Linked DNA regions of Homo sapiens. The protein of the gene in region 2 purifies or fractionates together with the protein of the main gene of each other region. This does not show direct contact. Each region holds a gene or a part of one and is shown on either strand. Other genes may lie near its edges. The genes, in order: MAP2K1 and BRAP.

Evidence for each region.
Region 1: the proteins of BRAP (region 2) and MAP2K1 purify together in Homo sapiens (affinity purification with western blotting, with the first as the bait; one study listed by BioGRID). This does not show direct contact.

Annotation. Positions count from the first base shown.
Region 1 is NC_000015.10:66,389,912-66,393,411, reverse strand, and holds part of MAP2K1 (dual specificity mitogen-activated protein kinase kinase 1), read right to left. Parts: intron 1-3,500. UniProt on the Homo sapiens protein: Dual specificity protein kinase which acts as an essential component of the MAP kinase signal transduction pathway.
Region 2 is NC_000012.12:111,665,261-111,669,284, reverse strand, and holds part of BRAP (BRCA1-associated protein), read left to right. Parts: intron 1-67; exon of another isoform or gene 68-327; intron 328-645; exon of another isoform or gene 646-1,050; intron 1,051-1,357; exon of another isoform or gene 1,358-1,565; intron 1,566-1,869; exon of another isoform or gene 1,870-2,354; intron 2,355-3,497; coding exon 3,498-3,646; intron 3,647-4,024. UniProt on the Homo sapiens protein: Negatively regulates MAP kinase activation by limiting the formation of Raf/MEK complexes probably by inactivation of the KSR1 scaffold protein.

The DNA.
Region 1 (3,500 bases), on a different chromosome or scaffold from region 2:
AAGGTCAGGACTTGGAGACCAGCCTGAGCAATATAATGAAACCCTGTCTCTACTAAAAATATAAAAATTAGCTGGGCATGGTGTCAGGCACCTGTAATCCCAGCTACTCAGGAGGCTAAGGCAGGAGAATTGCTTGAACCTTGTGGGGAGGGGTTGCAGTGAGCCAGGATTGCAACACTGCACTCCAGCCTGGGCAACAGAGTGAGACTCGGTCTCAAAAAAAAAAAAAGAGAGAGAGAAAGAGATAACATGCCTTATCCTGGAAGGAGAGACAATGTACCCTAAGACCCAGCAATTCCACTTCTGAGTACATTCCACAGGAAACTCTCTCACAACATCCAAAGGAGACAAGGATGTGCAAGGATGGGCATGGTCATGACTGTTTGAGGCAGCAAGGGGTTGGGAAACAACAAAGATGTCTAATTCTAGAGAAATAAATAAGTAAAATGTGGCAGGCAAACATGACTGCTCTACAACCAAGAGAAATAATGAACTAGACACATATTGTATAGCATCATGAATAGAGCTCAAAACAAAATTGGTTAAAAAAAGAAACTAAGGCCAGGCATGGTGGCTCACGCCTGTAAGCCCAACACTTTGGGAGGCTGAGGCAGGCGGATCATCTGAGGTCAGGAGTTCGAGACCAGCCTGACCAACATGGTGAAACCCTGTCTCTACTAAAAATACAAAATTAGCCAGGCACGGTGGCACATGCCTGTAATCCCAGCTACTCAGGAGGCTGAGGCAGGAGAATAGCTTGAACCTGGGGGGCGGAGGTTGCGGTGAGCCGAGATCATGCCATTGCACTCCAGCCTGGGCAACAAGAGCAAAACTCCATCTCAAAAAAAAAAAAAAAAGAAAAGAAAAGAAAACAAAGAAGAAACTGATATAAAATTTAGGGATGGTCATTGCTTCTGTTCAAATACTCCTGGTGCACCAGCACAGTGGCTCATACCTATAATTTCAGCACTTTGGGAAGATGAGGTGGGCAGATCGCTTGAGCCCAAGAGTTCAAGACCAGCCTGAGCAACATGGTGAAACCCCATCTCTACAAAACAATCAAAACTTAGCAGGGCGTGGTGGCACGCACCATTATACTCCAGCCTGGGCAGTGGGAGCGAAACCCTTTCTTAAAAAAAAAAAAAAAAAAAAAAAACCCAAAAAAAACACACAAATATTCGTGGTTCTCCCCCTTCCAAAAAGGTCACTGCCCTCCTTGAAGGTCAACATGGCCACATGATTTGCTCTGGCCAAAGAAATGGCAGCAAAAATGACAAGGCTCACCTCTAGGCAAAACTTTAAGAGCCTGAATGTAGCTCTTCACAAGATTCCCTCCTCATGTAGGTATACTTGAGAGACGATGCCTCGATCAGCCTGGATCCCTAAAGGACTCCAATCTACAGAGCCTCCCACTGACCTGAAAGTGTGTTAAATTACTGAGATTTTGTGGTTGTTACCTCAACATAACCTATTCTATCCTGTCTATGAAATGCAGATTTGTAGCACAATAACATTTTAGAATCCTAAGCAGATACATACAAAACCATCCTTCTACTTCCCAAGGGTATACACATAACCAGACTAACAGGTGGAATTATAAAACCATATAAATATCTTAGAATGGTTGAGTGGGTGACTAAAACAAAAGAAAATGGGGAAAAAAGGAATGAGCATAAAGGGGAAAAGAAAAGGAAAAGACATAAAAAGGTTTATTAAACCCGTTGTGCAAATATTAGAAATTTCATTCACTCACTGACTCAACAAACATCTATGGACCTATTATGTGCCAGAACTATTTTGGGTGTACTTACAGAGTGGTGAGTCAAAAAAAGGCAGTGCAGGCTGGGCACAGTGGCTCACGCCTGTAATCCCAGCACTTTGGGATCACGAGATCAGGAGATCGAGACCATCCTGGCTAACATGGTGAAACCCCATCTCTACTAAAAATACAAAAAATTAGCTGGACGCAGTGGTGGGCGCCTGTAGTCCCAGCTACTTGGGAGGCTGAGGCAGGAGAATGGCATGAACCTGGGAGGCGGAGCTTGCAGTGAGCCGAGGTAGTGCCACTGCATTCCAGCCTGGGCGATAGAGCGAGACTCCGTCTCAAAAAACAAAAAGGCAGTGCTGTGCTTAAAGTTTATAGTGTACAGGAGAGATAAATATTAAGAACACCCCAATGAAAAATTACAATGATTAAGTCTTATTAAAAGCTCAGGTGAGCGCCAGGCACAGTAGTACCCACCTATAGTCCCAGCTACTCAAGAGGCTGAGGTGGTAGAATCACTGGAGTCCAGGAGTTCAAGAACCAGCCTGGGCAACATACCAAGACCCCCATACCAAAAAAAAAAAAAAAAGCAGCAGCTCAGGTGACATGACAAAGAGGGACCACATTCCTCTGAGATGCTTATAAACATCTCAGAGGAAGTGACATTTAGGCAAATAGGTGAAGACTGCTTCCTGCCTACCTAGGGAAGGAGGAGTGATTCATTCCAGGCAAAGGGAACAGCATGTACAGAGGCCTGCAGTGCGTATAGACCATCCCATAGAGGAAGTGAAAGAGGACTAGTGTGGTGGAAGAAAGGAGTGGCAGGAAATGTGGTTAAAGAGATTGGTGGGAGGGGGTGGTGGGGACAACAGGCAGATCACTCAGTCTCATAGTCCAATATAAGGAGTTTGGATTTTGTGTAACTGCAATAGAACCAGAAGAACATTTTAAACAGAGGAACAATATTATCTCATTATCTCATTCTAACACTTAAGACCCTAGTAATATGCTCACATGTTTCTGCAAAATACACAAAAGAAAGCTATTTTTGCATGATTTTTCTTTGAGGACCCCTACAACTTGCATCAACTTCAGGTCCCGTATTACCCAACTCCATCTCTGAACTGGGTAAGGGCTATGTTAGAGGTAAGCACAGGTGCCAAGGGAAAAGCAACCTTGCCAATTTGGTACCAAGAGTTCTTTACTGTCAAAATGGATTTTCTTCCTCTTTAGTTCACATTGTCTGATAACGTTCAAAATTGTGCCCTGGTCTAATCACAGAAATCATGAAAGCAACAGAATTCTTTCTGCTGGTAGCCCAAGATAGGGAACATTTTGCTTGAGGAACACTCTCAGAAGTGAAAGATGAAGATGTGTACAGCTTTCCCTCTCATTAGTGCTATGAAACACAGGGAAACAGTCCCTGTTTGTCTTGGGCAGCCTACACAAAGATGCCTCCTATTGTAACACAGCAATGAGTCATAGAGGTAGATGCAGATGGTACAAAAAACCAAACTAGGGAGAGTTGATTGTCCAGAAGCAAAGGCACCTTAACACATAATCTACCACCATGAATGAAAATCACCTTCCAGTTTCCTTTGGTCCAACACTTAGGCAGTAACAAAGGCACCAGCAGCCAACAGCTTTGGAAGTTTACTATGTACTACCTCATTTAATCTTCACAACTATGCTAAGTAGGTTCTATCATTAGCCCCATTTTTGCAGATGAAAAAAA
Region 2 (4,024 bases):
GCACTCCAGCCTGGGCAACAAGAGCGAAACTCCGTCTCAAAAAAAAAAAAAAGAGAGAGAAGCAAATAGTTATTGTCTGTTTAAAACTGTAAGCAGTTACTCTCTTAACTCCCTTATTACCTAAACTTGTCTGGCTCCCAGGAACAGCCTTCTAGAGACAGGGAGTATTGGGAGGAAAACGTTACTTAACTATTGACTGAACGTAAATTTAGATAAAATTAAAATGCAGCTTTTTTCCTTATAGGCATTTGTTTTGTTTCAAGTCATCATAAAGTAGGTATTGCATTGCTATCAGTGGATACAGATGCTTAGCTCTTAAAAGAATTTTTTTTGGCCAGACGCAGTGGCTCACGCCTGTAATCCCAGCACTTTGGGAGGTTGAGGGTGGATCACGAGGTCAGGAGATCGAGACCATCTTGGTTAACATGGTGAAAACCCATCTCTACTAAAAATACAAAAAATTAGCTAGGCGTTGTGGTGGGCACCTGTAGTCCCAGCTACTCGGGAGGCTGAGGCAGGAGAATGGCGTGAACCCGGGAGGCGGAGCTTGCAGTGAGCCGAGATTGTGCCACTGCACTCCAGCCTGGGCGACAGAGCGAGACTCTGTCTCAAAAAAAACAAATTAAAAAAAAAAAAAAAGAATTCTTTTTAATGTAAACTGTTGAATATTTGAAATAGCCCACTTCACCTTAATGGGTCTTGTGTATCTTCATTTGTCTTCAAAGAAAAACCATTTGCTACCAAAGTAAATCAGTATTTCGAATGTGCTTCTCTTGTTTTTTGTTTATTAGCTAGTTGCTGTAAGCATTTCCACCAGAACTTGAGCCAAATCATAAGGAAGCTGTTTCTTTTAAAATACAAACCACCACCAAAAAATTAAATGTACATATTAAGCATTTGACTATTTTTATTTTTTTAAAAAGTATAAACACCAAAAAAAAAAAAATTAACATTGTATGAAGATGGAAAACAAGAAGATACACTTTCTGTAACTTTGTCTGAGGATTTAAATTACTAACTTGTGAATCCAATTTAAATTGAACTTAACTACTGGCTTCCCCCACACCCCGCCCCGACCCAGACGGAGTCTTGCTCTGTCGCCCAGGCTGGAGTGCATTGGAGCAGTCTCGGCTCACTGCAGCCTATGCCTCCCAGGTTCAAGTGATTCTCCTGCCTCAGCCTCCTGAGTAGCTGGGATTACAGGTATGCACCACCATGCCCAGCTAATTTTTGTGTTCTTAGTAGAGATGGGGTTTCACCACGTTGGCCAGGCTGGTCTCAAACTCTTGACCTCGTGATCCGCCTGCCTTGGCCTCCCAAAGTGCTGGGATTACGGGTGTGAGCCACCGTGCCAGCCCCAGCTTTCTTACTAGTAAAATTACATGGTTGATTTTAAATGTATACATGTTGACCAATGGCCTCTCAAAAAGCACATTTTAGATACTGGAGTAGAAGGAAAGAAAATGCATCTTCAAACATTTTTTTGGAATCTCACCACATATACTTTGTGAGATTTGTATATTGTAGGGTGTTAGTTTTTGTATTTTTGTATTGTGTATGAGCTTTTTTTTTTTTTTTTTTTTTTTGAGACGGAGTTTCACTCTGTCTCCCAGGCTGGAGTGCAGTGGTGTGATCTCAGCTCACTGCATCCTCTACCTCCTGGGTTCAAGAAATTCTCTGCCTCATCCTCCCAAGTAACTGGGATTACAGGCACCCACGACCACACCCGGCTAATTTTTTGTGTTTTTAGTGGAGACAGGGTTTCACCCTCTTGGCCAGGCTGATCTTGAACTCCTGACCTTGTGATCCACCCGCCTCGGCCTCCCAAAGTGCTGGACTTAACAGGCGTGAGCCACCCCGCCCGGCATCTTTTTTAATGTGACAGTTAAACACATCTTTAAAAGCATAGTCACAGACAAAAGAAGCATACAGTATAAACATTTCCTTGAAAACTCCTACAATATTATATTTGGAGGCAGCTTCAGACTGTTTTATTGGTGGTAACTGCTCGCTGAGCTCTTTTAGTTGGTAATAACTCCAGAGAAGCATCCTGTGTATATTCCTAACACTTGTTCACTAGCATTTAAGTTTAGAATGAGCCCCAAGTAAAACAATGGAAATGTATATAGAACTCTTAGTTCTTACATGATTTAATTATATCAAAATACATGAATTTAACTTACTTTAATGTAGGCAAACTATCAATTTTTGTCCATTTTCCTGTTTGTTAACATACCTCTCCTAGATATTCTTTTCTTGACCCAAATGAAATATTAACCTAAGGTCAAGCTGGGAGAGAGAAACAACTGAGATGAATGTCTTTACTAAAATACCGATAAATTTGTCAAACTCAAAAAAAAATTGACGTGATAAAATTGGGCATCCTTTGTGCTGGCTGCTGCACGAGGCCTCAGTTTTAGAGATTCCTTTCTTAAATGAACGTGGCTTCTTGAGAGATTTCCTGTAAGTATCTACTCTTCAGGGACTGTAGGTTAATGTGCTTTTTCTCTGTCCATAAGTGTGTGCTCCCTGACCTTTGCCTAAGTAATTCTTTCTCGTCTTCTGGCTGGAAGCGTCAAGTCAAGCACTGTCTTAGGAATGCCTTTCCTGACCATCTAGACTGTCATGCCCCCTAATTCACACCCTGTTGTGGCTTCCTGTACTGTTTGCTTTTTAATTTGATTTTTGTCTCTCCCTCCACTAGATTCTAAACTCTGTGGGGGCAGGAGCTGACTGTTTTTTGGACTTAACGTATCTGTTTTTGCTCACCACTGTTCCACACCTAGAACAGTGTCTGTCTGCTGCACATAGCAGGGGCTCAATCTCTATCTGTACAATGAGGGAATAAAGAAAAATCAGTGTTGTTGGTGCTGTCATCACTGAGTAGAAAGTGTTAAGTTATAACTTACTCTATGGAAAAATCCTTCAGGTCCAGCTATTCTTTTGTTCCTTTGTGTTCTATTATAGTCGTAGACACTTAGAGCTTGAGCTAGGAGTCTGGTCACATTTGAGATTTATATGTTAAGGTTTTGACAGCAGTCTCCCTTCCTGGAATGTCAGTTCTGTAAGGGCAGAGATCTTTGTTTTGTTCACCGCTGTACTCCCAGTACCTGGCACAGTGCTGGAACACAGGAGGTACTCCATCCCTGTTTCTTGAATGAATGAATAAATGAATGAAAATATTACCAATTTAAATTACTTGCTTAGAGTAATGATATTGAGGATATCCTGCCAGGAGTCAAAAAAGCAACTAGAAAACTATTATTAAAAGAAGAAAGGCCTGGCACAGTGGCTCATGCCTGTAGTCCCAGCTACTGGGGAGCCTGAGGTGGGCAGATCTCTTGAGCCTGGGAGGTCAAGGCTGTAATGAGCCATGATTGCGCCACTGGGCTCCAGCGTGGGTGACAGAGAGCGAGACCCTGTCTCAGAAAAAAGAAGGAAAAATAAAGTATTGCTGGTAGATGAAGAGTGAGGCTTATGTGAGGTGTTTCCTGTAGGGCGCCAGCCTCCCAGTGATGGACCTGACTGAACTCCCCAAGTGCACGGTGTGTCTGGAGCGCATGGACGAGTCTGTGAATGGCATCCTCACAACGTTATGTAACCACAGCTTCCACAGCCAGTGTCTACAGCGCTGGGACGATACCACGTGAGTGCAGGGGCCGAACCCCTCTGTGTACAAGCCCATTGCAACCCTTCCAGAATTAAAAAGAGCCACCAGCAGAAATGAACCATTCCAAGTATTTGACTTTATTCAAGAGGTCCTTTTTCTCCTTCCCTTTCCTAAGTTCAGGGAATCGGCATTCTGAGACCAAGTCCTTTTTTAGTATGCTGATTCTGAACCCTTGTGGAATTCCCCAAAGCAGCATGAGTTGTTCTTTCCTTCCAAGAGCCAGAGAGTGAAAAAAAAAAGCAAAGCTTAGTTTGAGGCTCTCGTGCTGCAGTGAAATCTAGGTCTGGAATCTCATGTATCAGCTGCACTTGGTGTCTGCCATTCACTCTGGGCTTCTTATCAACTGGGCTACAG